3 linked regions of the Homo sapiens genome follow. The protein of the gene in region 1 interacts with the protein of each later gene in a pairwise test. Each region holds a gene or a part of one and is shown in the gene's direction. Other genes may lie near its edges. The genes, in order: CFAP36, FCHSD2 and SNTB2.

Evidence for each region.
Region 2: the proteins of CFAP36 (region 1) and FCHSD2 interact in a two-hybrid assay, tested with the Homo sapiens proteins (one study listed by BioGRID and IntAct).
Region 3: the proteins of CFAP36 (region 1) and SNTB2 interact in binary tests that used the Homo sapiens proteins (3 or more experiments, as listed by UniProt).

The regions. Positions count from the first base shown.
Region 1 is NC_000002.12:55,535,209-55,546,141, forward strand, and holds the end of CFAP36 (cilia- and flagella-associated protein 36), read left to right. Parts: intron 1-503; coding exon 504-555; intron 556-2,274; coding exon 2,275-2,377; intron 2,378-8,729; coding exon 8,730-8,866; intron 8,867-9,011; coding exon 9,012-9,161; intron 9,162-9,698; coding exon 9,699-9,800; 3' UTR 9,801-9,871; downstream 9,872-10,933. UniProt on the Homo sapiens protein: May act as an effector for ARL3.
Region 2 is NC_000011.10:72,838,319-72,849,251, reverse strand, and holds part of FCHSD2 (F-BAR and double SH3 domains protein 2), read left to right. Parts: intron 1-5,511; exon of another isoform or gene 5,512-5,719; coding exon 5,720-5,803; exon of another isoform or gene 5,804-5,923; coding exon 5,924-6,101; exon of another isoform or gene 6,102-6,410; coding exon 6,411-6,631; coding exon of another isoform or gene 6,632-6,635; intron 6,636-7,668; coding exon 7,669-7,798; intron 7,799-8,292; coding exon 8,293-8,375; intron 8,376-10,377; coding exon 10,378-10,461; 3' UTR 10,462-10,933. UniProt on the Homo sapiens protein: Adapter protein that plays a role in endocytosis via clathrin-coated pits. Contributes to the internalization of cell surface receptors, such as integrin ITGB1 and transferrin receptor.
Region 3 is NC_000016.10:69,236,675-69,247,607, forward strand, and holds part of SNTB2 (beta-2-syntrophin), read left to right. Parts: intron 1-8,927; coding exon 8,928-9,141; intron 9,142-10,933. UniProt on the Homo sapiens protein: Adapter protein that binds to and probably organizes the subcellular localization of a variety of membrane proteins. May link various receptors to the actin cytoskeleton and the dystrophin glycoprotein complex.

The DNA.
Region 1 (10,933 bases):
TACTTTCGAAAAGCACTGTCTCAGTGAACAGTTTACAAAAGTTGATGGGCTTTGGCACAGTGGTATCACAAGTGCTTGATGATAGCTCAGATGCCATTGGAACAATGACATTTTATCAAGAGGGGTATAATGGCTCTTATCAAGAGGGGTGTAATTGATCACTCTAAAGAGGGTGATTGAAGTCCTTATTAATGGGATTTGCCATTCAAATTTGGGTTCAGGATTTCAAATCTGTTGATCTTTATTCAGCTAGGGTTCATTCAGAGTTCTAGAAGAAATGGGTAGACCTGTATTTTGTGTTACTAACTGTATTATGCTGTATGCCTATGTATGTCTTTCCCAGTTGACTGTAAGCCACTTTAGAGCAAGGCTTGATTATCTTCCATCTTTGTGTCTAATGTGCCTTTTATTGTAAGCTTAGGTTAGCATGTTGCTTAGTTGAATATTTGTTCTTTGACCAAAAAAGGAAATTTATCTTTTTATCTTATTTTTGTATATTTCAGAAAATCAAAAGAGGAATATGACCAGGAAGAAGAAAGGAAGAGGAAAAAACAGGTGCCTACAGAACATATAACAGAAGTATTTTATTGCTGTTATCTCTTATTAAGTTTACACCTAGATCTTACTATTAAAATTTATACTTATGTGGAACTACATAATTTTAAGTACAATGTAAATATTGACCAATAATATTAATATATCAATAATTCTATGTATGTCGTGCATTACTGCTGGCCACCATATTATATAGTACTATATATACTTAACTGTATATAGTACAAACACCACATAGTACTAATTAATCTTACAGGACATGCATATAAGCAAGAGTAGTCATTTTTTTTGGCAAGTTTAAGCATTTGTTTTTAACTTTTTATACTTTTTTCTCCTTCTTTATTTTTGTCCTGGTAACTCACAGAACAACATTTTTTTTTTTTTTTTGAGATTGAGTCTCATTCTGTCACCCAGGCTGGAGTGCAGTGGTGTGATCTTGGCTCACTGCAACCTCTGCCTCCGGGGTTCAAGCGATTCTCCTGCCTCAGCCTCCAGAGTAGCTGGGATTACAAGCGTGCGCCATCACGCCTGGCTAATTTTTGTATTTTTAGTAGAGACGGGGTTTCACCACGTTGATCAGGCTGGTCTTAAACTCCTGACCTCGTGATCTGCCCGCCTCGGCCTCCCAAAGTGCTGGGATTACAGGTGTGAGCCACCATGCCCGGCCAGAACAACCTTTTATACTCTTTTATTTATTTATTTTTTTGGAGACAGTCTCACTCTGACACCTGGGCTGGAGTGCAGTGGCGCAATCTCGGCTCACTGCAACCTCTGCTTCCCAGGTTCAAGTGATTCTCCTGCCTCAGCCTCCCAAGTAGGTGGGATTACAGGCGTGTACCACCACGCCCAGCTAATTTTTTGTATTTTCAGTAGAGACAGGGTTTCACCATGTTGGCCAAGCTGCTCTTGAACTCCTGACCTCATGTGATCCACCTGCCTGCCACTGTGCCTGGCCAACTTTTTATACTTCTTAATATATAAAGTATATACTTTTTTTTTGAGACTGAGTCTTGTTGTATTGCCCAGGCTAGAGTGCAGTGGCGTGATCTTGGCTCACTGCAACCTCTGCCTCCCAGGCTCAAGCGATTCTCGTGCCTCAGCCTCCCCAGTAGCTGGGATTATAGGTGCCTGCCACCACTCTTGGCTAATTTTTGTACTTTTAGTAGACAGGGTTTCACCATGTTGGCCAGACCGGTCTCGAACTCCTGACCTCAGGTGATCTGCTGGCCTTGGCCTCCCAAAATGTTGGGATTACAGACATGAGCCACTGTGCCCGGCCAAAAGTATATACTTTCTTATAAGAGTGTATACTTTATACTTTCTTTTAAAGAGGCCAGACGTGGTGGCTCACTCCTGTAATCCCAGCACTTTGAGAGGCTGAGGTGGGTGGATCACTTGAGGCCAGGAATTCGAGACCAGCAACATGGCAAAACCCCATCTCTACTAAAAATGCAACAATTAGCCGAGCGTGGTAGTGCACACCTGTAATCCCAGCTACTCAGGTGGCTCAGGCATGAGAATCATTTAAATCCAGGAGCCGGAGGTTGCAGTGAGTCAGGATCACACTACTGCACTCCAGTCTGGGTGACAGAGTGAGACTCTGTCTCAAAAGAAAAAAAAAAGAAAACTATAATATCTTTGGATCCTTTAGGTAGTGAATTAGTTAAAATGAATCTAAATTGTGTGTTTTTTAAAAAATTGTATTATGGAATCCTGAAGTTATCAGAGGCTAAAACAGAAGAGCCCACAGTGCATTCCAGTGAAGCTGCAATAATGAATAATTCCCAAGGGGATGGTGAACATTTTGCACACCCACCCTCAGGTAAGGTTGAGGTGTACTGAACTTTCTCTAATAATATGAATACATAAACACCATATAGAATGTGCCACTTTCTCATACTTATTTAACTTCAAAAGCCCTGGGAGGGAGTATTGAATGTCTTTGGTATTTAACGTTCTTTGTGAATTTGGTTAAAGAGGTTGCAGACGAGATACTGACCTGAAAGAGAGCGTATAGTCCTCAAGTTTCCGTGTAAAGCCTGGAACCCAGAGTAGAGAGCAAAACTCCTTGAGGGAGTAACTAGCCTTTGTGCATGACTGCAGCTTACAAGAGAGGTTCACATAACATTTGGTATTCTCTTCCATGCTTACAGTTGTATGGTATTTGTTAGTGAGAAGCTGAACTTGGAAAGATAATATTAAATTTCTTTTCCAATGAATTAAGTACAGCTAGAAAATAAGAGGTAGCCATTTTGTCCAGATATTTGGTCAGAAATCATATCTTTGAAATCAAAATTTATAGGAATCCTTGTAGGAAATACTAGTGGATGACCTTTTCAACATGTGGCAAATCTATTCTCAATATGAACTGATTTTCTATATAAGAAAACAAGTAATTCTGAAACAGAAATTATGGTCATGAATTCAGTTCATTTTATTATGGATTCCTATGGTTTTAAATAAATGTCCTTTTCTCAATTAAAAAAATATACTCTGTGAGGTAGATATTATAATCCTTGTTTTTCTTTTATCTTTTTTTTTTTTTTTTGAGTCAGAGTTTTGCTGTTGTTGCCCAGGCTAGAGTGCAATGGTGTGATCTCGGCTCACCATAACCTCCACTTCCTGGGTTCAAGTGATTCTCCTGCCTTAGCCTCCTGAGTAGCTGGGATTACAGGCAGGCACCACCACGCCCAGCTAATTTTATATATTTAGTAGAGATGGGGTTTCTACATGTTGGTCAGGCTGGTCTCGAACTCCCAACCTTAGGTGATCTGCTTGCCTTGGCCTCCCAAAGTGCTGGGATTACAGGCATGAGCCACTGTGCCTGGCTACTCTTATCTTTTTTAAAAAAATTATTTTTGTTGAGTCGGGTGTTGCTGTGTTGCCCAGGCTGGGTCTCAAACTCCTGGCCTCAAGTGATCCTCCTGCCTCAGCCTCCCAAAGCACTAGGATTATAGGCATGAGCCACTGTACCCATCCCTTCTTTTTTTTTTTTTTAAAGAAATTCAAGGAAGCTGAGCGACTTGTCCAAGATCACCGAACTCTTCAATGGTGAAATTATGACTTACCTTGGTCTTCTGACACTAAATATATTCTTCTAAACCTTAGTTTAGAAGAACTTCTATAATTGAGATTAGTGTGATGTTTACCCATTAATTTTTTAATGTAAGTTGGAGAACACCTTTCTTTAATATGCCTAATTTAAGCTGTTTTAGGTTCACAGTAAAATTGAGCAGAAGGTACAGAGATTTCCCCCATATAGTCCCTGCCCTAGTACATGCCTAGCCTCTCCCATTATCGACCCCCTCAAAAGTAGTACATTTGTTACGTTGGTGAACCTTCCTTGACACAACATTACCAACCAAAGAGCATAGTTTACATTAGGGTTCACTCTTGCTATTGTATATTCTGTGGATTTTGACAAATGTATGATGACATGCATTCACCATTATAGTATCATGTAGTATACAGTTTCATTGCCCTAAAAATTCTTTGTGCTCTGCCTATTCATCCTTCCCACCTCCTAGCCCATGGCAACCACTGATCTTTTACTGTTTCCACAGTTTTGCCTTTTCTAGAATGTCATATAGTTGAAATCATACAGTAGTACGTAGCCTTTTCAGATTGGCTTCTTTCACTTAGTAATAATCCATTTAAGATTTCTCCATGTCTTGTCATGGCTTTGTAGCTCATTTCTTTTTAGTGCTGAATAATATTCCATTGTCTGGATGTGCCACGGTTTGTTTATTCATTTATCTGCTGAAGAAAATCTTGGTTGCTTCCAAGTTTTGACAATTATGAATAAAGCTGCTATAAACATCAGTGTGCAGGTTTTTGTTTGGACATAGCTTTCAGCTCCTTTGGGTAAATACCAATGAGCATGATTGTTATATCTTACAGTAAGAGTATGTTTAGTTTTGTAAGAAAGTGCCAAACTGTGTTCTAAAGCGGCTATACCATTTTGCATTTCCATAGCAGTGAATGAGCGTTCTTGTTGCATCCTTGCCAGCATTTGGTGTTGTCAGTGTTCTGGATTTGGAGTATTCTAGTAGGTGTGTAGTGGTATCTCATTGTTGTTTTATTTGCATTTCCCTGATGACATGATGTGGAGCATCTTTTCATATGCTTGTCATCTATGTATCTTCTTTGGTGATGAGTCTGTTAAGGTTTTTGACCCATTATATTTGTTGGGTTGTTTGTTTTCTTTTTGTTAATTGGGTTCATTTTCTTATTGTTGAATTTTAAGTGTTCTTTGTATATTTTGAATAACAGTCCTTTATCAGATGTGTCTTCTGAAAATATTTTCTTCCAGTCTGTGGCTTGTCTTCTCATCCTCTTGATACTGTCTTTTACATAGCAGAAATTTTAATGAAGTTCAGCTTATTAATTATGTCTTTCATAGGGTGTGCCTTTGGTGTTGTATCAAAAAAGTCATCACCATACCCAAGGTCACCTAAATTTCCTCCTATGTTATCTTCTAGGATTTTTATAGTTTTACATTTTACATTTAGGTCTGTGATCTATTTTGAATTATTTTTTGTGAAGGGTGTAAAGTTTGTGTCTAGATTCATATTTTTTCTTTCAGATGTCCATTTTCCTTTCCTCACCGTATTGCCTTTGCTCCTTTGTCAAAGATAAATTGATTATATTTATGTGAGTTTATTTCTGGGCTCTCTATTATGTTCTGTTGATCTATTTCTCCATTCTTTTGCAAATACCACACTCTCTTGATTACTGTAGTTTGAAGTCTCCAAGTTGGGTAGTGTCAGTCCTCCAATTTTGTTCTTCAATATTGTGTTGGCTATTCTGGGTGTTTTGCCTCTCCATATAAATGTTAGAATCTGTTTGTCAGTATCCACAAAATAACTTGCTGAAATTTTGATTGATATTGTATTGAATCTGTAGATCATGTTGGGAAGAACTGACATCTTGACATTGAGTTTTCCTGTCCATAAACATGGAATAGGCCGGGCATGGTGGCTCATGCCTGTAATCCTAGCATTTTGGGAGGCCAAGGCGGGAAAACTGTTCGAGCTCAGGAGTTCAAAACCAGCCTGGGCAATTTGGCGAAACCCTGTCTTTACAAAAAAAATACAAAAATTAGCCAGGCATGGTGGTGCACGCCTGTAGTCCCAGCCTCTAGGGAGGCTGAGGCAGGAGAATTGCTTGAGCCCACGAGGTGGATGTTGCAGTGAGTTGAGATTGCATCACTGCACTCCAGCCTAGGTGATAGAGTGAGACCCTGTCTCAAAAAAATAAAATAAAAAAATAAAAAAAAGGCCAGGAGTAGTGGCTCACACCTGTCATCCCAGCAATTTGGGAGGCCGAGGTGGTGGATCACTTGAGGTCAGGAGTTTGCGACCAGTGTGGCCAACATGGTGAAACTCCATCTCTACAAAAAATACAAAAAATTAGCTGGGCATCGTGGCAAGTTCCTGTAATGCTAGCTACTCGGGAGGCTGAGGCAGGAGAATCGCTTGAACCCGGGAGGAAGAGGTTGCAGTGAGCCAAGATCGTGCCATTGCACTCCAGCCTGGGCAACAAGAGCGAAACTTCATCTCAAAATAAAATAAAATAAAAACCATGGAATATTTCTCCATTTATTTAGTTCTTTGATTTCTTTCATTAGAATTTTGTAGTTTTCCTCATATAGATCTTGTGCATATTTTGTTATATTTTATATCTAAGTATTTCATTTTTAGGGGTGCTGTGCTAATGTAAATGGTATTTTTAATTTTAAATTCCATTTATTCATTACTGGTATAAAGGAAAGTGATAAACTGTTATTAATTTGTATCCTGTAACCTTGCTATATAATTATTCATTTCAGTTTTTCTGTCAATTGTTTTGCATTTTCTACATAGATGATCATGTGTTCTGCAAATAAAGACATTTTTATTTATTCCTTCCCAATCAGTGTACCTTTTATTTCCTTTTCTTGTCCTAGTGGATTAGGTAGGACTTCTAGTATGATGTTGAATCAGAAAGGTGAGAGAGGGGACATTTTTGCCTTGTTTCTGATCTTAGTGAGAAACCTTCTAATTTCTCACCATTAAGTATTGTGTTAAGTTTTAGAGTTTTTCGTACTCTTTATGAAGTTGAGGAAGTTCCTCTCTATTCCTAGTTTACTGAGAGCACCCATTAATTTTAAGGAGTTAGATTCTTATTTGACAGAAAAACAGGAGTATATTGAATCAGAAGCAGATCTGTGAAGTTACCTTGCTTCTTTGTACCAAGTCAAACCATTTCTTTTTTATATATATGCTACAGATTGTAAGGAGAAATAGCCTCATTTTAATGATATATATGAAAGCTCCTGCTTTAGGTTTGTCTGTGCTCTAGTTTGCTGACCCAAATTAACTTTGTTTTATATACACCTAAGTACATACACTATTTAAATCTTGTGTCTAACATAAATTGAATAAATTTGCTTTGTCTGCTTTCTTATCTAAGTGAAGCTATAGAAAACTTGATCTCAAACCACATATAATTCAGTTGTACACATTAATGGTACACCATAAATGGTAGATCTCAAAAGTAATGATTTCAATTTTTAAAATAATTTTTTTCAAATGCGCATATCTGATATTTCAGAGAATCACTTCGTACAAAGTGATGGAAGCCCAGTATGAAGACCTGAGTTTGGAAGAATCATGAAGTTGTTTGAGCTTCTGCTTTGTCCTTTTGCCTGTCTTTCCCTCATTCCTGCCAGCAATGGATAGTGTCTTTTCTCAGATTGATGCAGATTTGCCAGAGATGAGATGATCTTTCTTTAGGTTTTCTGGCTTTCTGATCTTCCCTTCCTAGAAATTAGAGAAGCTAAGTATTTGGCTTCAAGTACTTTCCTTTCTAGGCCTGAGAATATACGTATGTTCATAATTAACAAACCCAAGGCAAGAACTGTCCAGAGAAAGAACATGAGTGGAATATAAATGCTTATATGTATGGGTTCCCCCCTCCTCAGGAATTATTTGAACTGTCCCTTCTCCAGTTCTGTGAGTCCACTGAGGGCTAAGCCTACCTCTGCTAACGTCACTCTCAGTAATAACAGCGGTGTTTTACCTCTATCTTTATTTCTGTTAGTTATGTAGCTCCCTGTCTAGGTTGGTTTGGAGTGCTGGTTACAGCTTATCTTTTCCATGGAGATTTCCCTTATTGTCCAAGGGTCTGGAGAGCTTTTCTTCCTTCAACCTCTCTGGCACTGTAGTCAGTCTGGTCACTGCTAGAGGAGTGGTCTGTTGTCAAGTTTCTTGCACAGACAAAATTCTGTTTTCTGTTTTAGTATGTATGCTGGCAAGGTATTTTTTTTTTTTAACTGGCAGGATCAACCAGGTGTGGCAAAAATTTTAATCATTTAGACATGTGTGCCATGTTTTCCCATCATGCTTTTAGATCTTAGCATCATTTTAATGTCTTTGCTTGTCTCAGTGTGCTTTCTTTCATAGCCCATGTATTTACACTGAAAATGTTTTATCTTTTTAAAAACAATCACCTTATAATAAAAAATGGCTCAGAGGAGCAATTAGAATGTTAACTCTCTCTCTTGGTTGGCACAGTCACCAAATGGCTGGAAAGTATTTAGTGCTCATGTTTATATGTGCTTCCAAGTTCTGCTTGCTTTAGAAATCTTTACATTTTCATAATGCACTGGCAGGTTTATAGTTATCTTCAATACATAATTATAAACAAAAATTATTGACATTACTGGCATGCACTCTTGCAATACAAAAAATTATAGTTTTACATTAATTGTTCTGAAAGTATAGGGTGACTTTTTACATGCAAGCAAAAGTTTGGAAACCAATTACATTGTAGTAAGGGATTAGTATACTGTTTATTTGGATTATGTGGCAATCTTATATTATAGTGTAGTTCTAATCTTTAGACAAGGATTTTAGCTTTTTGTAGCTATAGTACTGTACAAACAGCAGAAGCATGGTACTTGTTGAGAAGTAGGTGAGAAACTGTAGTTCCAAGCTCCTTAAGGATAGAGACATGATGTTTACTGTTCTTACCCAGTGGCTGGCACAGTATAGGCACTGAATATATGTTGACTGAATGACTATGAGGAAAAACAAGTATTATTAACATTAGCTCATTTCGGTAAACCTAGCCTAACACTTAAAATATTTCTCATAATATTCTAATTGCTCTTATTGTCTACTTATTGCCAGAAGTTAAAATGCATTTTGCTAATCAGTCAATAGAACCTTTGGGAAGAAAAGTGGAAAGGTCTGAAACTTCCTCCCTCCCACAAAAAGACCTGAAGATTCCTGGCTTAGAGCATGCGAGCATTGAAGGACCAATAGCAGTAAGTAAACGACATCACTTAAGAACTATAAGCAAAATGACAAGGTACTGGGAAATCAAACTTCGAATTGAATCACTCAGTGGGCATCTGTGCTACTTACTAAATGGATTTGAATTTAGATAGCTCCTTTTCTTACTTGACCCAGAACTTATCAGTACTTGGAACAGAAGAACTTCGGCAACGAGAACACTATCTCAAGCAGAAGAGAGATAAGTTGATGTCCATGAGAAAGGATATGAGGACTAAACAGATACAAAATATGGAGCAGAAAGGAAAACCCACTGGGGAGGTAGAGGTATGGCTAGCCTTAATATGTCAAGATTTACAAATCTGGTGGTGGAACTATCAAAATCAGAATATGTGCAAGAAAGCCTCTAATAAATTTTGCTTGCAGACCCATTCATATTAATCACCTCCTAGTGCAGTAGCTGCTAAGTCTTTTCTAGGAAGTGAAATTGTTGTGATAAGGATTTTTTGAGGCAGAAAATAGCGGTGTCATTATACATTTTTTTCTTATGCTGTTTCTTTACTTGCCCTTCTCTGAGTATGTCAGGGTTGGTGGTCTGTTTCACCTGGGCATTCTGAAATGTTTTATCATAGAGCAGCATCAGTACCACCTTTATCATAGAGCACATCAGCCACCACTTCCCAGAGGGGTTCTCCAAGAAGAGACTTTACGAAGAAGAGATTTAGGAAACCTAGTCTATGTCTGTCTCTCCCTCCGTCCCACAAGAAGGTGCCCCCGATTTTTGTTCATTTGAGGCAGTATGTTGGGAATTTTAGACAAATTACCCTATTTCATACTGTAGCCAATTTTTTCTTTTTTTTTCAGGAAATGACAGAGAAACCAGAAATGACAGCAGAGGAGAAGCAAACATTACTAAAGAGGAGATTGCTTGCAGAGAAACTCAAAGAAGAAGTTATTAATAAGTAATAATTAAGAACAATTTAACAAAATGGAAGTTCAAATTGTCTTAAAAATAAATTATTTAGTCCTTACACTGAGCCTTTTAGTTTCGAACACTTTTGTAAATCCAAATATCTTAAACACTTTAGGTAAAGGACAGTAGGGAAGGCAGCTACTCATACTGATTAGTTTAATACAAATTCCTGGATGTTTTCCCTTGGAAAGAGGGTATAGAAGGAAACTAGTTGATAGTATGTTCATTCATTCAAACTCGGTTACCTACTGTTTGTGCCAGGCATTGTGCTAAGCACTAAGGATACAGGAGTCAACTAGATTGACAGGGTCACTGCCTTCATGGGGCTAGTGGAGAGGGCCCAAAGACGAAACTGTTAGAAAGGCAAAGTGTAGTGTCCTATGAGCAGGGCTGGCTAAGCCTCTTTAAGCTGAATGGAAGGTTAATTACACAAAGAATAGGTAAGGAACAGTTCAGGTTCTGCAGCAGGAAATAAAGCATATACTGAAAAACTGGAGTATATATATGAGTGGAGACGGTTAGCATATGAAATTGGAGACAGGTGGGGGACTGACAGTGCAGAGTCTTACAGGGAATGTGAGGATTTAATTTTTTTAAAAATTATTTTAGAGACAGGATCTTGCTCTGCTGCCCAGGCTGGCGTGCAGTTGCACAATCCCAGCTCTGGATTTTAAATTTTGTAATACCAGCAGTGTCAAGTCATTGAAAAATTTTAATGCAGGGGCCAGGCACGGTGGCTGACACTGTAATCCCAGCACTTTGGGAGGCCGAGGTGGACAGATTGCTTGAGCCCAGGAGTTTGAGATCAGCCTGGGCAACATGGCAAAACCCTGTATCTACTAAAAATACAAAAAATTAGCTAGGCATGGTGGCATATACCTGTAGTCCCAGTTACCTGGGAGGCTGAGGTGCTAGGATCACCAGAGCCCCGGAGGTCAAGGCTGCAGTGAGCTATGATCACAGCACTCCACTCCAGCCTGGATGACACAGTGAGACCGTCTCAAAAAAAAGGAAAAAAAAAATTAAAGCAGGGAAGTTAAATGATCAAAATTTTCATTTTTATTGCTGTATGAGGTAGAGTAGTTGTGGGTGTACCATGTATGAGACAGTCCAATCAAGGGTAGAG
Region 2 (10,933 bases), on another chromosome or scaffold:
GATAATTGTGGGATGACTACATGAATGTTGGAAGGGAGGCGTGAATACATGAATCTTCTCTTGCCCCTGTTCTGGTGGAGGCATGTGTGAGAAGGGGCAATGCGGAAGGCTATCAGAAGGGAAGGTCCTGGAGAGAGAATCCACCTGTCATGCACCAGATTCACTCCTCCGCCACATCCCTGTGTAGCCAAAAGGTGGCAGTGTTTGGTAACCTCAATATCAGTGATTCCCAGACTTGTTTTGAGTTTAACATCCTTTCATTTTATATTTAAATTCATAATACTTCCTGTTCATTGAAAGTGTTAGCATTTTTTTCCAATGTAAATCGTTTTGATAATCTTTTGAAAATTTAAAATCATCTTCTCAGATACTTGGAAAGGTATTACAGGGTATTATAAAACTAGCATTGGAATTGTTTCCTGATACCACCTCCCATTATATTTACTTGAACGTCCCAGAACTAAAATTTAAGTTCCTTAAATAGAGAGATTCCTAAGTGTCTGAGTGATTTTAAACAGTTCACATTCATTCAACATTCCCTCTGTTGGCATATCCCAGGCACATCCCTGCGTTAAATAGACTATGAACATCTATTTAGTCAGTTAATCATTGAATAAACATATAGAGTGCCCAATATGTGATACACTGGGGGGATGCCAGAATGAATATGACATCTCTCCCCTCTAGGAATGGACAATCTATGAAGGGTTAAATATTAAACTGGAAAATAGAACAAGTGTGAAAAGATTTATAGTAAAGGTAGAGCCACTAATTCTACCTGGATCATTGGGAGAAATTTTACAGATGAGGTGGCATTTAAAGTAGGTCATGATTTAAGACCTTTCTAGATGCAGTGAGAAGGTAGGGAGAGGAAAGAGCCTTCTAAGCAAAGAGAACAGCAGGTATAGAGACAGAGTGTGATGAGAGTGTGGGGTGTTCAGGAAATGTTAAATTCAGTGGTGTAGGAGTGGGAGAACAGAGGGGCTGTGCATAAAGGTGTTTGTTGTCAGATAGTAAAGGGCCTTGGGTACCAGACTTAGAGGTTTGGTTTTTATCCTGGCTAGGAAGATCCTTAGATGGCCTGAAATCAGATTGGACTTTTAAGAAGCTAACCTGGTCATGGTATAGATATTCTAGAGGACAGATTAGGATACAGAGGGACTGACTTTAAGCCTAATCATAATTCTTATAGTCCAGACCAAAAAGGAGGCCTCGAATAATCTGGTGAGAACAAAGAAACTATATTTAATGGTTAGAGTTGGCCGGGAATGGTGGCTCACGCCTGTAATCCCAACATTTTGGGAAAATGAGGCAGGTGGATCACTGAGGTTAGGAGTTCAAGACTGGCCCAACCAACATGGTGAAACCCCATCTCTACTAAAAATACAAAAATTAGCTGGGCGTGGTGGCGGGCGCCTGTAATCTCAGCTACTAGGGAGGCTGAGGCAGGAGAATCACTTGAACTCAGGAGGAGGAGGTTGCAGTGAGCCAAGATCGCACCATTGCGCTCCAGCCTGGGTGACAGAGCGAGACTCTGTCTCAAAAAAAAAAAAAAAAAAAAGGTTAGAGTCAAAAGCCTTAAGAATGTTCATAACTTTTGACCCTATTAGCATCCATCCTAAGGAAGTAAATCATAATATAGAAAAGTTTTGGACACAAAAATGTCCTTTCATATAGTACTGCTTTATAATGTATGGCACTTCTGCCCAGCCAAACTTAATCTTAGTTTTCATATTTCTTTGACTCCCCGCTAAAGGTCCATGAAGGGAGAAGTTTTGTCTCTGTATGTTTACCTTGTCTGTGTGTCTTCAGCCCCTAGGACAATGCCCAGCACGTAGTAGGTCATTAGTAAATAATTGTGGAATGAATACTTGAATGATGGAAGGCATGAACAAATGAATCCTTCCCTTGACCTCATTCTGATAGAGACATCAGTGAGGATAATAGAGCTCATGACTGGATGCAATGGCTCATGCCTGTAATCCCAACACTTTGTGGGGCCAAAGCGAGAAGATCACTTGAAGCCGGGAGTTTGAGACCAGCCTGGGCAACAAAGAAAAACCTGGTCTCTACAGAAAAATTTTAAAATTAGCTGAGCATGGTGGCACATGCCTATCGTCCTAGCTATTCAGGAGGCTCAGGCAGGAGGATCACTGGAGCCCAGGAGATCGAGGCTGCAGTGAGCCATGATTACACCACTGCACTCCAGCCTGAGTGACAGAGTGAGACCCTGCCTCTAAAAAATAAATTTTAAAAAAATTTAAATTTGGCAGTTCAATGAGAATAATTAAACTAGACATTCATATACTATAGCCATAACATATAATATTATGAAACTTACTGAAATTTTCATCAAGAGTTTTTCTATATAAGAAGAAACCCTTATGTCCTAATATTAAATTAAAAGGTAGGATACCAAATTGTATGTACCGTAAGAGCTCAATTATGCATATTTTCCAGCTTTTCTACGATGAACATGTATGATATAATCAGGAAAAACATATTGTTTTAAAAGAAATACAGGAAATTTGGAGAGATACTGGTGGAAACGGAGCTCTGGTTGTCACTGGATACTAGGACTTAAGGAGACAGTATGAGAGTATGTGTGTATTTAATAACCATTTACTGCTCACTGTCTTTAGTTGGGGTAAGTGAGAAGAAATGTAGTCCCTAATTATTTCTAGTAGGAAGCTCACAAGGACAAACTCATTAGAGCATCATGGTAGTCAGTGTTATGGGGACGCTCAGAGAGCCTTTTAAGAACAAAATGGGGGCTGGGCACGGTAGCTCACGCCTGTAATCCCAGCACGTTGCGGGGCCAAGGCGGGCGAATCGCGAGGTCAGGAGTTCGAGACCAGCCTGACCAACATGGTGAAACCCCGTCTCTACTAAAAATACAAAAAATTAGCCAGGCATGGTGGTGTGCACCTGTAATCCCAGCTACTTGGGAGGCTGAGGCAGGAGAATTTCTTGAACCTGGGAGGCAGAGGTTGCAGTGAGCCGAGATGGCACCACTGCACTCCAGCCTGGGCAACACTGTGAGACTCCGTCTCAAAAAAAAAAAAAAAAAGAGCAAAAGGAGGAGCAGCTTACTCATCATGAGTAGTCTGGGAAAACATATGCGCTCAGTCTCAAGTCAAAAGTAATCGTAACTACTTATCTATCTATCTATCTATCTATCTATCTATCTATCTATCTATTTATTTGTAATCCCTTCAATAACCCTATGAGGAAGATATTATCAAACACCCCATTCATTCAACAAATAGTGCTTGAGCACCTTCCATGTATCAGTGCTGTGGGCTTTTCTAGGCTCTGGGATATAGCATTGATCAAAACAGACAAAAATCTTTGCCCTCATTGAGCTTATATTCTAGTACGAAAAAAGAAAACTGAGGTTCAAAGGTATCTTACAGTCACTTGCCCATAAAAATATACTGAAGCTGGACTTAAACCCACAGTAATCTAAGTCTGCTCATCAGATAGGAAAGAGGGAACAGAGCCTGATGGACGGAAGAACACCTATAAAAGCACAGAGGCAAGGAAGAACATGGTATGCTCAGAGAATAGAAATAGTGTGCAGGGGCCAAAGCGTCAAGAGGCCCACAGGGACCAAACTCTGCAGGGTCTTGATAGCCATGCAAAGAACTTGACCTTGTTAGGTGGAAGAATTGGTCATCACTGCTTTAGGATGGGATGATCAAGCTAGTGTCTGCTTACATTGGACAACTAGTGCTGCAGTGTTGAAAAACTTGCATGGACCTCCATGGTTTTTGTTTGTTTGTTGTTGTTTTTTTTTTTTTTTTTTTTTTTTGAGACAGGGTCTTGCTCTGTCACCCAGGCTGGAGTGCAGTGGTGTGATCTCGGCTCACTGCAACCTCTGCCTCCCTGCAACCTCTGCCTCCCTGATTCAAGTGATCCTCCCACCTCAGCCTCCCAAGTAGCTGGGATTACAGGCACGTGCCACCACACCCACCAATTTTTTGTATTTTTCATAGAGACAGGGTTTCGCCATGTTGCCCAGGCCGGTCTCAAACTGCTGGCCTCAAGTGATCCACCCACCTTGGCCTCCCAAAGTGCTGGGATTACAGACGTGAGCCACCTCACTCAGCCTCTCCATAGCTTTTTATAAGGGCAGCAGTTTATTTAAAAGTGTACTACCTCCCTGGTTTGCTGTCACATACATTAACGTCTGGTCGTGTTGATACTTTTTAGGTCTTGCCATGAAAAACATTTTTATTACAAAAATGCCTTTTGCTGGCATATTCAAGGCATAGTGTGGTTTCAGAGTAGTGAAGGAATTCCATTGGAAAAGCTATCAAGGGTAAATGAGTGGGGTTTTTTCCTCAATATTATTTTTCTGTCTCAGGGAGCTATGGCAACATCCAGAATCTGGATTTTGATGAAATGTTTTAATGTTCATAAAATGGGAAATTGATCTTGAAAATGACCCCTTTTTTGCCTTATTTTTGTTTGTGTAACTTGGAGTTAATTTTACATTTTGAGATTGTGAGATTTTAAAAACTTTATGGTTTTAGGTGATGGTTTTAACCCATCTTGGGACTTGGGGAAAGCTTTTAAGACTGTTTTCTAGAGAGCCAGAAGCCAGCAGGCCCCTGTCTATTACACATGACAGGCAAGACTGTTAGGAAGCAAAGCCACACGGACTTTCCAGCCCCTCTGTGGAGCCTCAGAGCGTTTACAGATTTGGCAGTCTCAAGGGCAACATGTGGGTGGCTGATGCTGGTGGATTGCTGCTGTCAGGGATAATAAAACCATTATGGTTAGCAGCTTGTACGGTAGCACGCAAATGGATCAGCTCAGTCTCCACACAGTTAAGTTGGAGCATAAGAAATCCAAACCATGACTGATCTCAATCATTTCCTTTCCTACAATTTTTTTCTTTTGGCCACTGCTTTACAGTGATTCCAGATCAATCCTAGGCACTGCACCCACTATCATCAAATTCACGTACATAGTTCTTTGCATTTTCACTGCATGCTTGTCCATGGGAGCCCTCTGGTAGCAGTTCCAATTCAGTGCCTTCTCGTTTGCCTTTGCTTCCCAAATCATCACAGTTCTGTGCTTATCCATCCCACATTGACTCACATCCTCCAGAAAATGGCAGGATTGTCATTTCAAAGAAATGGAGGCATCAAGTTGAATAACTTGATACAGAAGCTGGAGTTGGAACCCAGGTCCTCTACTTCCAGGAAGTGCTCTCTTTTTTTGTTTGTTTTTTTAGAGACAGGGTCTCGCTCTGTTGCCCAGGCTGGAGTGCAGTGGCTCACTCATGGCTCACTGCAGCCTCAACCTCCCAGGCTCAAGCGATCCTCCCACCTCAGCCTCCCAAGTAGTTGGGACTACAGGCATGTTCCACCATGCCTGACTAATTTTATTTATTTATTTACTTATTTATTTATTTATTGGTAGAGATGGGGGTCTCGCTGTGTTGCCCAGGCTTACATGTTCTGTTCATTGAACGTCATTGCCTCTTGAGGATTCAGTTTCTTGAGTTTTTGTTATGGTTTTATTCTGTTTAGTTTTTTAAAGTAAAACTTCACCTCATTATGAAAGTTTTACAGCATTTAAATTTTTATGTTCAACATGTTTCTCAAAATCATTTCAATATTTTGATCCCCAGTTTTTGTCATGATCAGCTCACATCTGCTCCTTATCTAACCTTTTTAATTTTGTCCATGACCATCCTACACTGCAGGCTTCTCAACCAGATGAGTTGACCATTGAGGAACATGAGGTGTTAGAAGTGATTGAAGATGGAGATATGGAAGACTGGGTAAAGGTATATTCCTTTGCTCATATCGCCCTTTCTTGTGACATTTTTAGGAGTTTGTTTTGGTCTTTGTTGTGCCCTGTCTAAATTGTGTGTGTAAACTTGTTTTGTCACATGTCTTTTACCCAGGCTCGAAATAAAGTTGGCCAAGTGGGTTATGTGCCAGAAAAGTACCTACAGTTTCCCACCTCGAACAGCCTCCTGAGCATGCTGCAGTCCCTGGCCGCTTTGGACAGTCGGTCACACACGTCCAGCAATTCCACGGAAGCAGAACTCGTTTCAGGCAGCCTCAACGGAGATGCCAGTGGTAAAGACTGAAACAAGGCACTCTTTATTTGGTCACGTTTGACCTAAACTGTATTGCCCTGGAGTAAGCCTTCAGTAGGATAAAAAGCACAACTTTCCTCCTGTCCTATAATATGCTTTTCTTTATATGGTCACGTTTGTCCTGCACAGTAGAACCCTAAAGTTAATCATTCATCAGTGAGTAAAAAAATTACAACTTTAATCCTATTCTGTATGATGCTCTTTTAGTTGTCATGTGAGCATAGGGGTGGTTGCAAAAGCAACCGGCTGTTAATTATCTTACCAGATTTGTTTTTCTCTTGCTCCCTAGTATGTTTTGTGAAAGCACTTTATGATTATGAGGGCCAGACAGATGATGAGTTATCTTTTCCTGAGGGAGCAATAATCCGTATCTTGAACAAAGAAAACCAAGATGATGATGGCTTCTGGGAAGGGGAATTCAATGGGCGTATTGGAGTTTTCCCATCGGTGCTAGTGGAAGAACTTTCAGCCTCAGAAAATGGTGACACTCCATGGATGAGAGAGATTCAGGTACCTGAGAGGGGAGACAGTTGAATTAAAAGATGTTTAAAGAAAATTGCTCCCAAAGGGTCTGTGGATCCACACAAAAGTGGGCTGCAGTCTCTGCCTTACCCTCACCGGTCCTTGGTTGCCAGTGTCTGCACAACTGCATTTGGGAAACCAGAGACTTGTCAGTCAGTCCCTTGTGGAATGTGGCCATCCTCCCACACCTCCATCTTCCCACATTCTCTCTCTTCCTTGAATTGGTTAACCAAAATGCCAAATTATATGTGACATACCAAAGATCGTTTTGGTGGAGAGAAAGAAACAAACCGAAGAGGGAAGGCGTTGCTCTGTGGTTAATTTACGTAGTAAAACTCTTAGCTGGCTCTCTCTCTCCCTCACTGTCAGAGCCTCCTTGCCTAGTCCAGGTCCTGCCAGTCTATTTCAGAGAATTAATGAGCCTGCCAGAGCCCCTAATCCCCACTCAAGTGACCCTAGACTTAGTTCATCACAGGGAAACAGCCTTTAAAGGAACCTCTAATTCAGTCAGAGTTTAGTTTGTCCCCTCAGGGATCTATCACTGCAGGCCAGACAGGTAGAGGAAGAAGGAACGTGTTTGCCGATCTTGTTTGCGTGGTGATTGTGACCCCTTAGCCTAACATGCACAAAACCTGGGGAAGTCAGAAATTCAGCAAAGTATTTTATCTTCACCCCAAAAAATCCAACTTGTTCCTTTTGTTGTTGTTGTTCTTTGCTAAGTTTACTGAATTGACTAATTTGGTACATTTTCAATAGAACCCTAGAGAGTAGCTTCACTTGATAACTGTTTAAGATAAACTAAAATCAGTAATGTGATGAGATCTGTAAGAGGAAAAAGTGAAGTGCAATGCAAAATTGGAGCTTGAGGTGGTTATTTAATGCTCAGTTGCCTCTAATGAGGTTGACAAGTTTCAACAATCAGCTTAGCTTTAGAGAAAAGGCATGAGTACAGAGCAGTCAGAGAAGCAGCCAGGCTCTCCTTCCTGGAGGGGAGCACCGGGTAACCTCGCTTCCCTTTGCTGCAGATCTCTCCTTCCCCCAAGCCACACGCCTCCCTGCCTCCACTGCCGTTGTACGACCAGCCTCCCAGCAGCCCCTACCCCAGCCCAGATAAGAGGAGCTCCCTGTACTTTCCCCGGTCTCCTTCAGCAAACGGTAAGGGTTCTCCTGGGCATGGGTCTAAATGCATTTTCACTTCAGAAACCTACATATTCGCCTGAAGGGCAAAAAAAAACTGCATTTGCTTTTTTTTTTTTTTTTTTTTTTTTGGAGACAGAGTCTCTGTCACCTGGGCTGGACACCCAGGCTGGAGTTCAGTGGCATGATCACGGCTCATAGCAACCAATTCCTGGGCTCAAGTGATCCTCCTGCCTCAGCCTCCCTAGTAGCTAGGAATACAGGCATGCACCACCACACACAGCTAATTTTTGTATTTTTTCTGGACAAAGGGTATTATTCTGTCACCCAGGCTGGAGTGCAGTGGTGGGATCATAGCTCACTGCAGCCTTGAACTTCTGGCCTCAAGTAATCCTCCCGCCTCAGTATCCCAAAGTGCTGGGATTACAGGCTCAAGCCACCATGCCAGCCTTGCATCAGCATTATTGCTCAACAACTCAAGTAAAATGAGCTTCTTTGGTTTTCTCCCTTAGAAAAAAGCCTTCATGCTGAGTCACCAGGATTCTCACAGGCATCAAGGCATACTCCTGAGACCTCATATGGCAAACTGCGACCTGTAAGTCTCTGATCTTGCAGGATTATCGAATGCATAGTTCTTCCAAATTGAAAGTAAGGAATTAATGTTTCCCCGTGGCCCCTGTGTTGTTACTGACTATGCCAAACAAGGATGAACTGGGTTTGGGAAGGTAAAAAGAGCTATTGAAAAGGAAGGCCATAGAAATCAACTCATCTCGGGACATTTAATCTACACTGGAACTTTTTTCACTGAGCCACAGTGAGATTGCAAGATGATGGCTATGAAAGTGATTTAGAATAGAACAAACTTTATGAGCATTAAAGCGGGCTAATTGTGAAACACTTTTTTCAGTAAGCATTTAATTTTCCAGGCCTCTATTTGCCTCTTTGAGGAATACCAAGATGAAATAATAAGCTAACTTCATGGCCTTAAAGAGCGTTTATTCTCCGGGTGAATATATTATTGCAAAGTTACCTCTCCTCACCCTTCACTCTACTGCCATCTGCATTCCACCCACCACTGTACTCCAAGGTCATAACTTGCACGGTAATCCAGTCGGATACTTTGCAATTTTATTTTCCTTGACCCCTATTAGCTTTTGATACCATTCCTTTACCACTGGCTTCTTTTGGCTTCATTCATTCAGCAAATATGTATTGAGTGCCTTCTTAAGGACTTGAGTCTTTATCCCAAATGAGACAGGAAGCCATTGTAAAGTGGTAAGCTGGACAGTGTTGTGGCTGGTGCATTTTTAAAGCATCGCTATGGCAGCTAAGAGGCGGATGGATGGAGGGTGGCAGAAAGGATATAGGGAGCGATTAGGAGGCTGGAGCAGCATCCAAGAAAGAAGTGGTGGCAAGATGGACTGGTGGGTAAGAGTGGGAAGAGAGAGCAGTGGGCTGATGTGCTTCTCTACATTTGCCTCGTTTGCTTTCTTCCTCTCTGGTCCTACCTTTCTGTGGACCTTTGCAGCCTTGCCGCCACCTGTCTCTGCTGATAATTCTCATGGTTCTGTCACTGGGCTGCTTCTCTTGAAGTTGTTGAACGCACTCTTGCCGAATGACCTCATCTACTTCCACAGCTATGATAACCATTTATATGCCAGCAAGTCTCAGATTTATAACTGCCAATCCGATCTCTTCTCTTGAGCTTCAGATGTGTGGATATCTCAGTTTATATATCCCAGATCCCCAAAACTCAGCAAAAATGAGTTATGTTCCCTTCCAGACATGTTCCTTCTCCCATATTGCCTATCTTGGTAAATGGAACCCCCATCCTACTGGTGTTCTGGCATCATTCTTAATACCTCCTGCCCCTGCCTCCCACAGTCATTCCCAAATCCTGCCAGGTATACCTTGCAGAGAGCTCGCAAATCTTTCCACTTCTCTACTTCCCCTACTGCCAGTACCCTCGTTTGGGCTATTGTCAACTCTCATTCAGAGGATTACAAAAGTCTCCTAAGTTGCCTTCTTACTTGGACTCTTGCTTGCCTCTGATCCTTTCTCCAGTTGTTACCTGAGTCATCTTTTCGCAGATCTGATATTGCTTAAAATCCACCAAAAACTCCTCTTTTGCCTACAGAATAAAGCACAGATTTATTTTTTTCTTCTTAAAGCAGATGTTTAAACATGGTTTAACAAGGCCCTTCACAACTTAACCCTAGCCTACCTTTCTAGCCTTCTCTTTTGTAACTCTCTACCCAAGACACACTGAAATGTTTCATTTCTCTAAGCATTGCTCTCCCTTGCTTCCAGCCAGACCTTTGCTTTGGAGGATGTGCTAGGATCTTAGTCATAGGACTTGTGCCCATGAGGTTTTTAGCCTAGGCAAGAAGCTGATTTGTGGGCTTGATATTTCATTGAGAACAACTGCTTCTCAGTGTAGGAAATAGTGAAGACTAGGTTGAAAGCACGTGCTCACAACATTTCTGAGACCCCTAGGGTGCCCATGTCCTTGGACAGATGAGTGATTAGGTTTTGGGGATGCTTCAGATACTGAGTCAGGAACTGACTGACAAACTACGTAATTGTTTCCTGCTCAGGTCCGGGCAGCTCCCCCTCCACCTACACAGAATCACCGAAGGCCAGCAGAGAAGATTGAAGATGTGGAAATCACACTGGTGTGATGATGGGCTTGCCCATCCATTACTGCTACAATCAAGGCCAGGCTTGGAGTTTGGCCAGTCTTGTTTTTTAGGCACCTTTGCATGATGATGACTCTTGAACAGAGCAAAAAACAAGGAGGATTATGTGTGACTGGGTGGCCTGGTAGACTCCTCCCACGTTTTGAATATTTCGTGCCTTTTTTTTTTGTTGTCATTTTCTATGTCATTTCTCCTACCATAGCACAAATCCTAGCGGACCCTAGGAGCAAAGAGGGGGGCAGCCCTCATGCCTAACAGTGGTCTGTTTTTATATGAGACTCAAGAACAGGCCTCATTCCAGGGCACAGTCCCTAAATTACTGATCATGTGCACTCGTACAGTATATTACTGTGACCACAAGGATGTGGCAAAGATTCTCATCTTTCTTCAAGTGGCTTTTGCTCATCTGATTGAGAATTAATCAGATCATGTTGGCTACATAAGGAAACAGAAG
Region 3 (10,933 bases), on another chromosome or scaffold:
AAAAAAAAAAAAAAGCAGCAGCAGCAGCAGCCACTACAGTGGCTGGTCTGAGTTAACCAAGGCATGTTGGCAGTGGAAACTGAGGGGAGTAGGTAGGCTAGAGAACAATTTCAGATGTGATTTGGCACCTGATTAGATGTAGCGGGTAGGGACAGAGAGTGGTCTGCAAAGGTTTAGAGAAGCATTTTCCAAACCTTGATCGAGCATGAGAATTAACCACCTGGGCAACCTTTAATAAAATACAGAAGAGTGTGCTTCACACCAGGCTAACTATAGTACTGGTTTAGATCCTGGGTGGCGAGAAAGATGATGATGCTAATCCTTATAACTACAAGAGTGAGCACAGGAGCAGGGGATAAAGGATAATGAAGATTAGTTCTTGTTTGGATATGTTGAATCTGAAGGATGGGGCAGCACCCAGGTGGTGGGATTGGGGCCAACAGGAGATATTGGTTCTAGAGAGCTGTGTCAAACTGGAGATCCAGCAGAAAGCTGACAGGGATGAGAGGATAAAGTGAGAAGTGCTAAAATCAGAGCCTTAGGAAACACCTGGATTATAGGGATAGGAGGAGAAAAAAGGCACTTAAAAAATAAATGGCCAGAAAGAAGGAATACAAAACAGCTGGTAGAGTGCATTGCCATACATATTGGAATGGTCGAGCATAAGGATTGAGAAAGGGCCTTTGGATTGGGTAAGAAAACATTGATAACCCTTTAGAATGCTGTTTTAATTCAGAAGAGATTAAGGAGTGAAAGGAGAAAATAGAAACAATAAGCAGAAATTGTTTTGTTTTGATTTTCAAGGAATGGTGAAGGGAGGGAAGAGCCAAGTCTGGGTTCATCAGGTCAAGGGAGTGCTTTTTCAGTTTGGATAAACTTGGTACTATTTTAGGCCAGCATTTCTTTTTTTTTCTTTCTTTCTTTCTTTCTTTTTTTTTTTTTTTTTGAGGCAGAGTTTTGCTCTGTTACCCAGGCTGGAGTGCAATGGTGCGATCTTGGCTCACTGCAACCTCCGCCTCCCCGGTTCAAGTGATTCTCCTGCCTCAGCCTCCCGAGTAGCTGGGATTACAGGCATGTGCCACCATGCCTGGCTAATTTTGTATTTTTTGAGTAGAGACGGAGTTTCTCCATGTGGTCAGGCTGGTCTTGAACTCCCGACCTCAGGTGATCCTCCTGCCTCGGCCTCCCAAAGTGCTGGGATTACCGGCATGAGCCACCATGCCTGTTAAGCCAGTATTTCTATGGAGCACTTGTGTTTCGTGGATCTTCTGCCTACCTCCTTCTTTTCTCCCCAGCCCTTTAATAGTGGAGTGTCTGCTTTCTCTTCCGTACTCACTTCCTTGCTTGTGCTGGAAGTCTTCCATTGGCTCTTCTAGGTCCGCTCCTTCTCTACATGCCATCTGTCCCGGACGCTGACCTGCGTGGACAACATCAGCAGACTTCCTTGGCCTTTGGTTTTTGTTGGGTTTGGCCAATGTAGAGCCCCAATAGGACATTGGAGGGAAAGAAGGAGGAGGGTGAGGTTGGAGCATTTATCCCCTTGGCCCCCAATTCGCAGGTCAGTGCAATCTGGCTGAATTGACTGAAAGTCACTGCTCCTCTCACATCGGTCTCTATAGGGCTCTTTTCTTCTGGGTTTGGTACCCACTCTCTTTCCTATTTCCTTCAGGCCTACATGTGGAAACAGCTAATAGCCATGGGATACTACACTCTATTTTTCCATGTGGTTTCCCTGCACTCTGCCCACATCTTCATAAGTTGTCCCTTTATTAAATCCCTTACTATCGTTTCCTGCTGGGATCCTGACTGATACAGTGATCTTATCCAGTTTCATGGCATTAAATAGCAACTATATGCTAATAGCTCCCAAATTTATGTTTTTAGCCTACACCCATTTCCTGAACTGCAGACTTATATATCTAGCTGCCTGTTAGACTTGATTGTCTAATGTATGTCTCAAGTTCCTGATCTTTCTTCTAAAGCTGTCAAGGGGAACGCTATCCTTCTAGCCTTGTTCGGGACAAAAATCTTGACATTATCCTTGACTCTTCTTTTTGCCACCCCCTTATGTAATCTGATGTAGAATCTGACCACTTCTCACCACCTCCACTACTATTCCCCTGGTCCAACTCCTATCATCTCTCATCCCTGTTAACCTGCCAGCTGGTCTTCCTGCTTTTGCCTTGGCCTTCTTTTATTCTATTTTCAACATAGTGGTCACTTGCTCCTGAAAATCTCCCAATAGCTTCCTGTTTCAGAATAAAAGCCAAAGTCCTTGCCATGACCTAAAAGGCCGTACATGGTCTGCCTCCCAGCCCCGTTACCTTTGTGACCCCATTTACTACTCTGTCCCCCTCACTTACCCAGCTCCAGTTACTCTGGGTCTCCTTACTGTCTAACACTCCTGTTAGTAACTCCTGTTACTGTCCTAACACTGTCTCCCTGGCTGGAATGTTTCTCCCAGATATTTGCATGGCCAACTCCCCCATCTCCTAAAGTCTTTGTTCAAACATCTTATTAATGGCTTACCCTAACTACCATATTTAAAATTTACAAACTGACACCCTGGGCAGCATTTCTGACCCCTTCCCTTGCTGTGTTTCATTTTCCCATTACACTTAACATCTTCCAATATACTGTATAATTTACTTATTTTATTTTGTAATTATCATACTGTACAATTGAATTTTTTCCCCTTAAGGTATACAGTTCTATGAATCTGGACACATACATAAATTCTTGTAACTGTCACCACAATCAGGATACAGGACCATTCCATGGTTTCAGAAAACTCTGTTGTGCTATCCCTTTATAATCATATCCCTTCTCACCCCTAACCCTTAGAAACCACTGAATTTATTTTTATTTATTTATTTATTTATTTATTTAGTCAAGGCAGGGTCTCGCTCTGTTGCCCAGGCTGGAGTGCAGTGGCGCAATCTCAGCTCACTGCAACCTCTGCCTCCTGGGTTCAAGCCTCCTGCCTCAGCCTCCTGAGTAGCTGGGCTTACAGGCGTGCACCACTATGCCTGGCTAATTTTTGTTTTTTTAGCAGAGGTGGGGTTTCACCATGTTGGCCAGGCTGGTCTTGAACTCCTAACCTCAAGTGATCTGCTCACTTTAGCCTCTCAAAGTGCTGGGATTACAGGCATGAGCCACGACGCCTGGCTAGAAACCACTGAATTTTTCATCATATATTTTTTTCTTTTCAATAATGGGGTCATACAACTTTTGAGACTGGTATAATGCCTTTCAGATTCATCCAAGTTACTGAGTTATAAATAGTTTGTTCCTTTTTATTTCTGAATAGTGTTCTATTCTATAGCTGTATCACAGTTTATCCATTCACTTCCATTGAAGGAAATTTGGGTTGTTTCCAGCTGTGGTACTTACGAATAGAGCTGCTAAGAACATTAGTGTACAGGCTTTTGTGTGAATGTAAGTTTTCATTTCTCTAGAATTTCATTAAATTATTAATTACATTATTATTTTTTGCATATTTTATTCACTGGCTAATAATTCTACATGCCTAAAACAGTTCCTGGTATATAGTAGGAGCTCAATAAATTAGTGAATTTGCTATGTTATTTTAGAATGAAGAGGAAGAGTGAAAGAGTCACTCTGAACTCATTCAAGGTTCATGTCACCAGACTCTAGACTGCAGTCTACTCAAACCCCAAATGGCCAGGAGACTTGAGCTGAAAGACACCTGCAAGTTGAGAATGTAAAAGGCTTTTTACTCAAAGCAAAGCAATTCCTTCCTCGTGTTTTTGGTGGTCATTTATCAGCCTCCTGACTTGAGAGAAGAGCTTGGGATGAGGTTGGAGAGAATCCTCCTGAGAGAATACTTTAACAGTGACTGTCAACATAACTCATTCCTGTGCAAAATGCACAGCCAGATATTCCACTCTGAGAATAATCCAGGAACAAACTTGCTTGCAAAAGCAGGGGAAATAATGTTGTGTGACTAACTTAGTTTCACTTAAACTCATAGTAAAGATCACCAGTTGGGGCATGGAAAAGGTAAGAGTTAGAGATAAAAAGGAACATAACGATTATATGAGAAGTTGATGTTTATAAAAGAGGTTGATCCATTTATCCAAATATGTGTGTTTGCAGCCGTAGGCTGTGTCTGCCCTATTATGTATCCTTTTTGGATAAGGTTTTTGTTTCGTTTCGTTTTGTTTATTTGTTTGTTTGTTTGAGATGGAGTTTTGCTCTTGTTGTCCAGGCTGGAGTGCAATAGCATGACCTTGGCTCACTGTAACCTCTGCCTCCCGGGTTCAAGCAGTTCTCCTGCCTCAGCCTCCTAAGTAGCTGGGATTACAGGTGCCCGCCACCACACCTGGCTAATTTTGTATTTTTAGTAGAGATGGACTTTCGCCATGTTGGCCAGGCTGGTCTTGAACTCCTGACCTCAAGTGATCCACTCGCCTTGGCCTCCCAAAGTGCTGGGATTACAGGTATGAGCCACCGTGCCCGGCCTGGATAAGCTTTTTTTTTTTTTTTTTTTTTTTTTTGTGATGGAGCCTCACTTTCTAGCCCAGGCTGGAGTGCAGTGGCACAATCTCAGCTCACTGCAACCTCTGCCACCTGGGTTCAAGCAATTCTCCTGCCTCAGCCTCCCCAGTAGCTGGGATTACAGGTGCCTGCCACCGCACCCGGCAAATTTTTATATTTTTTAGTAGAGATGGGGTTTCACCATCTTGGCCAGACTGGTCTTGAACTCCTGACCTCGTGATCCACCCACCTCGGCCTCCCAAAGTGCTGGGATTACAGGTGTGAGCCACCATGCTCAGCACCAGCCTAGATAAGCTTTAAAAAGCCAGGGTGGGCGTGGTGGCTCAAGCCTGTAATCCCAGCACTTTGGGAGACTCCGAGGTGGGCAGATCACTTGAGGTCAGGAGTTGGCAAGCAGTCTGGCCAACATGGTGAAACCCCGTCTCTACTAAAAAAAAAAAAGCCACTTAACAGGTGGGGTGCAGTGGCTCATACCTATAATCCCAGCCCTTTGGGAGGCCAAGGCGGGTGGATTGTTTGAGCTCACCAATTAGAGACCAGCCTGGGCAAATGGCAAAACCCTGTCTCTACTAAAAGTACAAAAATTAGGTGGGTATGGTGGTGTGCACCTGTAGTCTCAGCCACTCAGGAGGCTAAGATGGGAGGATGGTTTGAGCCCAGGAGGCGGAGGTTGCAGTGAGCTGAGATCATGCCACTGCACTTCAACCTGGGTGATAGAGCCAGACCTTGTCTCAAAAAAAAAAAAAAAAAAAAAAAAGAAGCCACTTGCATTCAGTTTAAAATCAGATGCTGCCTCATGCCCCAAACATGGAACTCTTCATAACCTTATTCATTAGAGCTTAGAATTCAGTAAGAATCAGTTGGATTTTGGATCCTATCCAGTGCATTATAGTTTTTGAAGCCTCAAGATTTCCGTTTACATGTCTTTCATGTTTAAAGTTTGAGCAACAGGCTGGGTGGTGGCTCATGCTTGTAATCCCAACGCTTTGAGAGGCTAAGGCGGGAGGGTTGCTTGAAGCCAGGAGTTTGAGATCAGCCTGGGCAAAATAGCAAGACCTTGTCTCTACAAAAAATTAAAAAGTTAGCCAGATGTGTCGGTGTGTGCCTATAGTTGCAGCTACTCAGGAGGCTGAGGCAGGATCACTTGAACCCAAGAATTTGAGGTTACAGTGAGCTATGATTGTGCCACTGCCCTGCAACCTGAGGGACAGAGTGAGACCCTGTCTCAAAAATAAAATTAAGATAGAGTTTGAACAAGGTCTCAGAATAAGTTTTCTTCATTTCTTAAATACGTTTTTAAAATAAATACTATGGACTTAACAAAAATTTTAAATATACAGAACAACATAAAGAAAAAAATGCAATCCTACACCTGTATATAAGCACTATTGATATTTTGATTAAGTTCCTTCCAGACATCTTTACAGGTACATGTGTGCAGTACATGTATGTGTTTTTGTCACTCTAAAGAAGAGAAGGGATCACAGTAATGCTTTTGGGGTGGGAGGAAGCCCACCTTCACGTTCAGTAAAAGGGATACGTGAGGCCGGGCATAGTGGCTCAAGCCTGTTATCCCAGCACTTTGGGAGGCCAAGGCGGGTGGATCACGAGGTCTGGAGATCGAGACCATCCTGGCTAGCACGGTGAAACCCCGTCTCTACTAAAAATACAAAAAATTAGCCGGGCGTGGTGGCGGGCGCCTGTAGTCCCAGTTACTGGGGAGGCTAAGGCAGGAGAATGGCGTGAACCCAGGAGGCAGAGTTTGCAGTGAGCTGAGATTGTGCCACTGCACTCCAGCCTGGGCGACAGAGTGAGACTGCATCTTAAAAAAAAAAAAAAAAAAAAAGGGATACATGAATGGAAGAAAGAAAATTAGCTTCAGCATCTGAACACTCAAAACAGTTTGTAAACATCAGTGTTTAATTAAATTATTTTGAGGATTATCTTCAACTATCAGGAAAAATGAAATGATTCTGAAATATGTTGTGGATTCTGAGTTGAACTGAAAGCTCCATGTGGGGGTGTAAAGGCTCTGCTTATCCAGCCACGTGTCCAGGTTAAGGCCTTAACATAGGACTGAAACAGAAGACTGTTAACTTTTTGCCATTCCCAAACATAGAAACAGATGTCCATCCACAGCTCTTCAGCCATTCTGGATGGCTAATTAGATGGGGGTATGGACTGCATTGCCATCAACTCAGATAAAATTCATTGCTCTTTTAATAAGGCAATACATAAATTGTATGTGTATGTCTGTTTTTGTTTTAGGATGTGTGTAGTAATCAGTTCAGTGATGCTACTGTGTGATTGAATGAACTGAGTAGATCGTTAAGGGTTCTTTTCTAACCACTATATTATTCAAGAATTCATTTAGAATGTCTTTAATTTCCTCCAGTTGGTAGCCCAATAGTGTACTGCCTTAAATGTTCAAAAAGCATGCCTCTGCCATTTGCAGTAACTGGAAACCTTAGGAATTTCTGCCAAAGTCCTTCAAAGCATAAAGCTGAAGTATGTATTGAAATGCTTGAGTCAGCTGCTCAAGGGTTATACTGACTGCACTCCTGCTGATTTTTCTAGGGTAAAAAAATCTCCTTGGTGACCTGAGGCAGCTACCCAGAAGCACGTGTATTATAACTATGCACAAAAAGCACAGAGATATACTACATCTAAATTCTAGCATTGGAATTGTTATATTTTTTATTATTATACTTAATTTCAGTAAATCTTTTTTAATAACGTATAAGAAAATAACTTTAACTCTTCTACTGATTACCATTAAAATTTTTTAACTCTTCTCTAACTTTCTAATTTAGGGAAGGAAAAAGAAAGGTACCTACTGTATTTATTGAATGTTTAGTATGTGCCTGAAATTTTTATTTGCTTAGTGTTACTCCCATTTTGTAGATGAGGACCTCAGAACAGTTAAGTGCGGTCACATAGCTTTGAATAGCAAGCACAGTTAGGATTTGAACAAGGTCTTCTTGATTCCAAAGGCATCTCTATGACCACATCATGCTGTAGAATGAGCTATCAACTATTAGGCCTATAAAAGACTATCAACCTTATTAAATAAAAAAACTAAGGTGCAGCACGGTAAGCATAATGTACCACCATATGTATGATCAGATATACACGCATGTGTATGTGTTTATTTTCATACATGCTTAGCATACCAGGCATCTCTTTGAATGGTTGCCTCTAGGAATGGAGACAGGGTAGCTAGAAATCTGGACTTTTATTATAAAACCTTTTATACCTCTTGAGTTTTGTTTTATGTGCATGTATTACCTATTCACAGGAGAAACTGTGTGTACCACTGTGCCCAGCCAGTTTGTCTAGTTTTTGAAACAAGAACACCATGCCTCGAGTGACAGTAATTGTAGTCATGACTGAAGTAAAACAAGTATTTTATGAGTTTTAAATTTGAACTTAAAAAAGCTTCCTATCTACTAAAAGCTTGATTTTCATTTGGGGCCACATTAATGGAAATAGAGTATTTTGAACAAGCAAGGGGGATCAGTTGAGTTGGCTTTGTGCTTATTAGATCATACCTTATCTTGAATATACTTTATTTTTGCACTTGATTTTAAGAACTGTAATGGCCTGTTTACATAGCTGTCTCCCCTGCAAGGCTGGGCATTCCTTGAGGGATAGAATCCATGGCTCATTTGCCCTTGTGTCTTTACTGGCTAGCCTAATTCCCAACACTTGGTAGGTAGCTAATAAAAGTTGATTGAGTTGAATGGAAATAGAAATACTTAGCTTAGTATGGGGAGGAGAGAGAAGAGAAAAATCTGTCTTCAGATAATTACAGAGTTCTCATGTAGAAGAGAGATTAAGTTTGTTCTATATGGCTTGAGAAGACAGGGAACCAGTGGGTAGAAGTATGGAGAAGTTTCTAAAGGTTGAATCATCTAAAGCCTAGATGGGTCTGTCTTAGAATCTATCTCCAGGGGATTCATGGCTCTTTAACTTACTTTTTTCCCCCATTTTTTGTTTGTTTGTTTGTTTGTTTGTTTTTGAGGCAGAGTCTTGCTCTGTCGCCCAGGCTGGAGTGCAGTGGCACAATCTCACTGCAGCCACCGCCTCCCGGGTTCAAGCAATTCTCCTGCCTCAGCTTCCTGAGTAGTTGGGACTACAGGCGCATGCCACCACGCTCACCTAATTTTTTGTATTTTTGGTAGAGATGGGGTTTCACTACGTTGACCAGGCTGGCCTTGAACTCCTGACCTCAAGTGATCCACCCGCCTCGGCCTCCCAAAGTGCTGGGATTACAGGAGTGAGCCACCGCGCCCAGCTCTTTCCTCCACTTTGTTATAGATATAGCATGTATGTGAATACTTTAGTTATCATTTATTATAGGAAGCAAAATTACTAACCTTCTTCTTTGATTTTTTTGTTCATAGTCAAGTTCATCCGAGAAGTAACACCATATATCAAGAAGCCATCATTAGTATCAGATCTGCCGTGGGAAGGTGCAGCCCCCCAGTCACCAAGCTTTAGTGGCAGTGAGGACTCTGGTTCGCCAAAACACCAGAACAGCACCAAGGACAGGAAGATCATCCCTCTCAAAATGTGCTTTGCTGCTAGAAACCTAAGCATGCCGGATCTGGAAAACAGGTGAGGTGTACCTAACAAGAACATCATACCTACAGCTTTACAAACTTAAGGACATGTTGCAGTATTATATGACTCTGTTAACTCAGTTATACAGAGGAAAACATCTGTCTGAGGTGAGAGATGCATTTTTGGGGTTCCACATTTTAAGTTATTCTACATATATACATGTATATGTGTAGAAAAAATTTTGAACAGACACACAAGAAACTGTTAATGGCTTTACCTCTAGGGTGTCAAATAAGACTAAAGGGGTGAAAGAAAGAGGGGGCATCTTTTCTTCCTTTTATGTCTTTCTGTAATGTTGTTATTACTTTTTTCACTATGAATATGTATTACTTTATAATTGAAAGAAGTCCATTCAGTATGATATTGGCTGTGGGTTTGTCATAGATAGCTCTTATTATTTTGAAATACATCCCATCAATACCTAATTTATTGAGAGTTTTTAGCATGAAGGGTTGTTGAATTTTGTTGAAGGCTTTTTCTGCATCTATTGAGATAATCATGTGGTTTTTGTCTTTGGCTCTGTTTATATGCTGGATTACATGTATTGATTTGCGTATATTGAACCAGCCTTGCATCCCAGGGATGAAGCCCACTTGATTATGGTGGATAAGCTTTTTGATGTGCTGCTGGATTCGTTTTGCCAGTATTTTATTGAGGATTTTTGCATCAATGTTCATCAAGGATATTGGTCTAAAATTCTCTTTTTTGGTTGTGTCTCTGCCCGGCTTTGGTATCAGAATGATGCTGGCCTCATAAAATGAGTTAGGGAGGATTCCCTCTTTTTCTGTTGATTGGAATAGTTTCAGAAGGAATGGTACCAGTTCCTCCTTGTACCTCTGGTAGAATTCGGCTGTGAATCCATCTGGTCCTGGACTCTTTTTGGTTGGTAAACTATTGATTATTGCCACAATTTCAGCTCCTGTTATTGGTCTATTCAGAGATTCAACTTCTTCCTGGTTTAGTCTTGGGAGAGTGTATGTGTCGAGGAATTTATCCATTTCTCACTCATAGGTGGGAATTGAACAATGAGATCACATGGACACAGGAAGGGGAATATCACACTCTGGGGACTGTGGTGGGGTGGGGGGAGGGGGGAGGGATAGCATTGGGAGATATACCTAATGCTAGATGACGAGTTAGTGGGTGCAGCGCACCAGCATGGCACATGTATATATATGTAACTAACCTGCACAATGTGCACATGTACCCTAAAACTTAAAGTATAATAAAAAAAATATATATATATATTAAAAAAAAAAAAGAAGTCTTGTTAAAGATAAATTTTTAAATATCTCCTTAGATGGAAATTCCTTATACTGTAGGTAGTATAGAGTTAGAGGTCTGCATTATGGTTCTGGCTGAATCAACCAGCAGTGTGACTCTGGCAAGTTAGCTTCCCTTGACCTCAGTTTCCTCATTTGCAAAATGAGAAAATTAGATTGGATAATTTCTGATGTCCCTCCTAGTTCTATAATCATATGTGTTCTATAACTTTGTCTTCATTAACTCAATGAAGTGGCACTGGTAGACCGAATGTTAGGTTAGAGATTAGTGGAAAAAATAAGATGAAAATAACTTGCCCAAAGACATAGTTAAGGACAGACTTTTTATAATGTGTTTTCACTATTATGGTCTCCTCTGATCTTAATGCACAGCCAGGTCCCTGATCAGGATGGAATGGAGCACAGAAGACACCAAGAAACTGAATGGCCTCCTTGGGTGTTTAAGGCTTTAAAGCTTCTGCTCTGTAGTATATTATGTGGTTTGCTGGAATGAACTGAGCTCT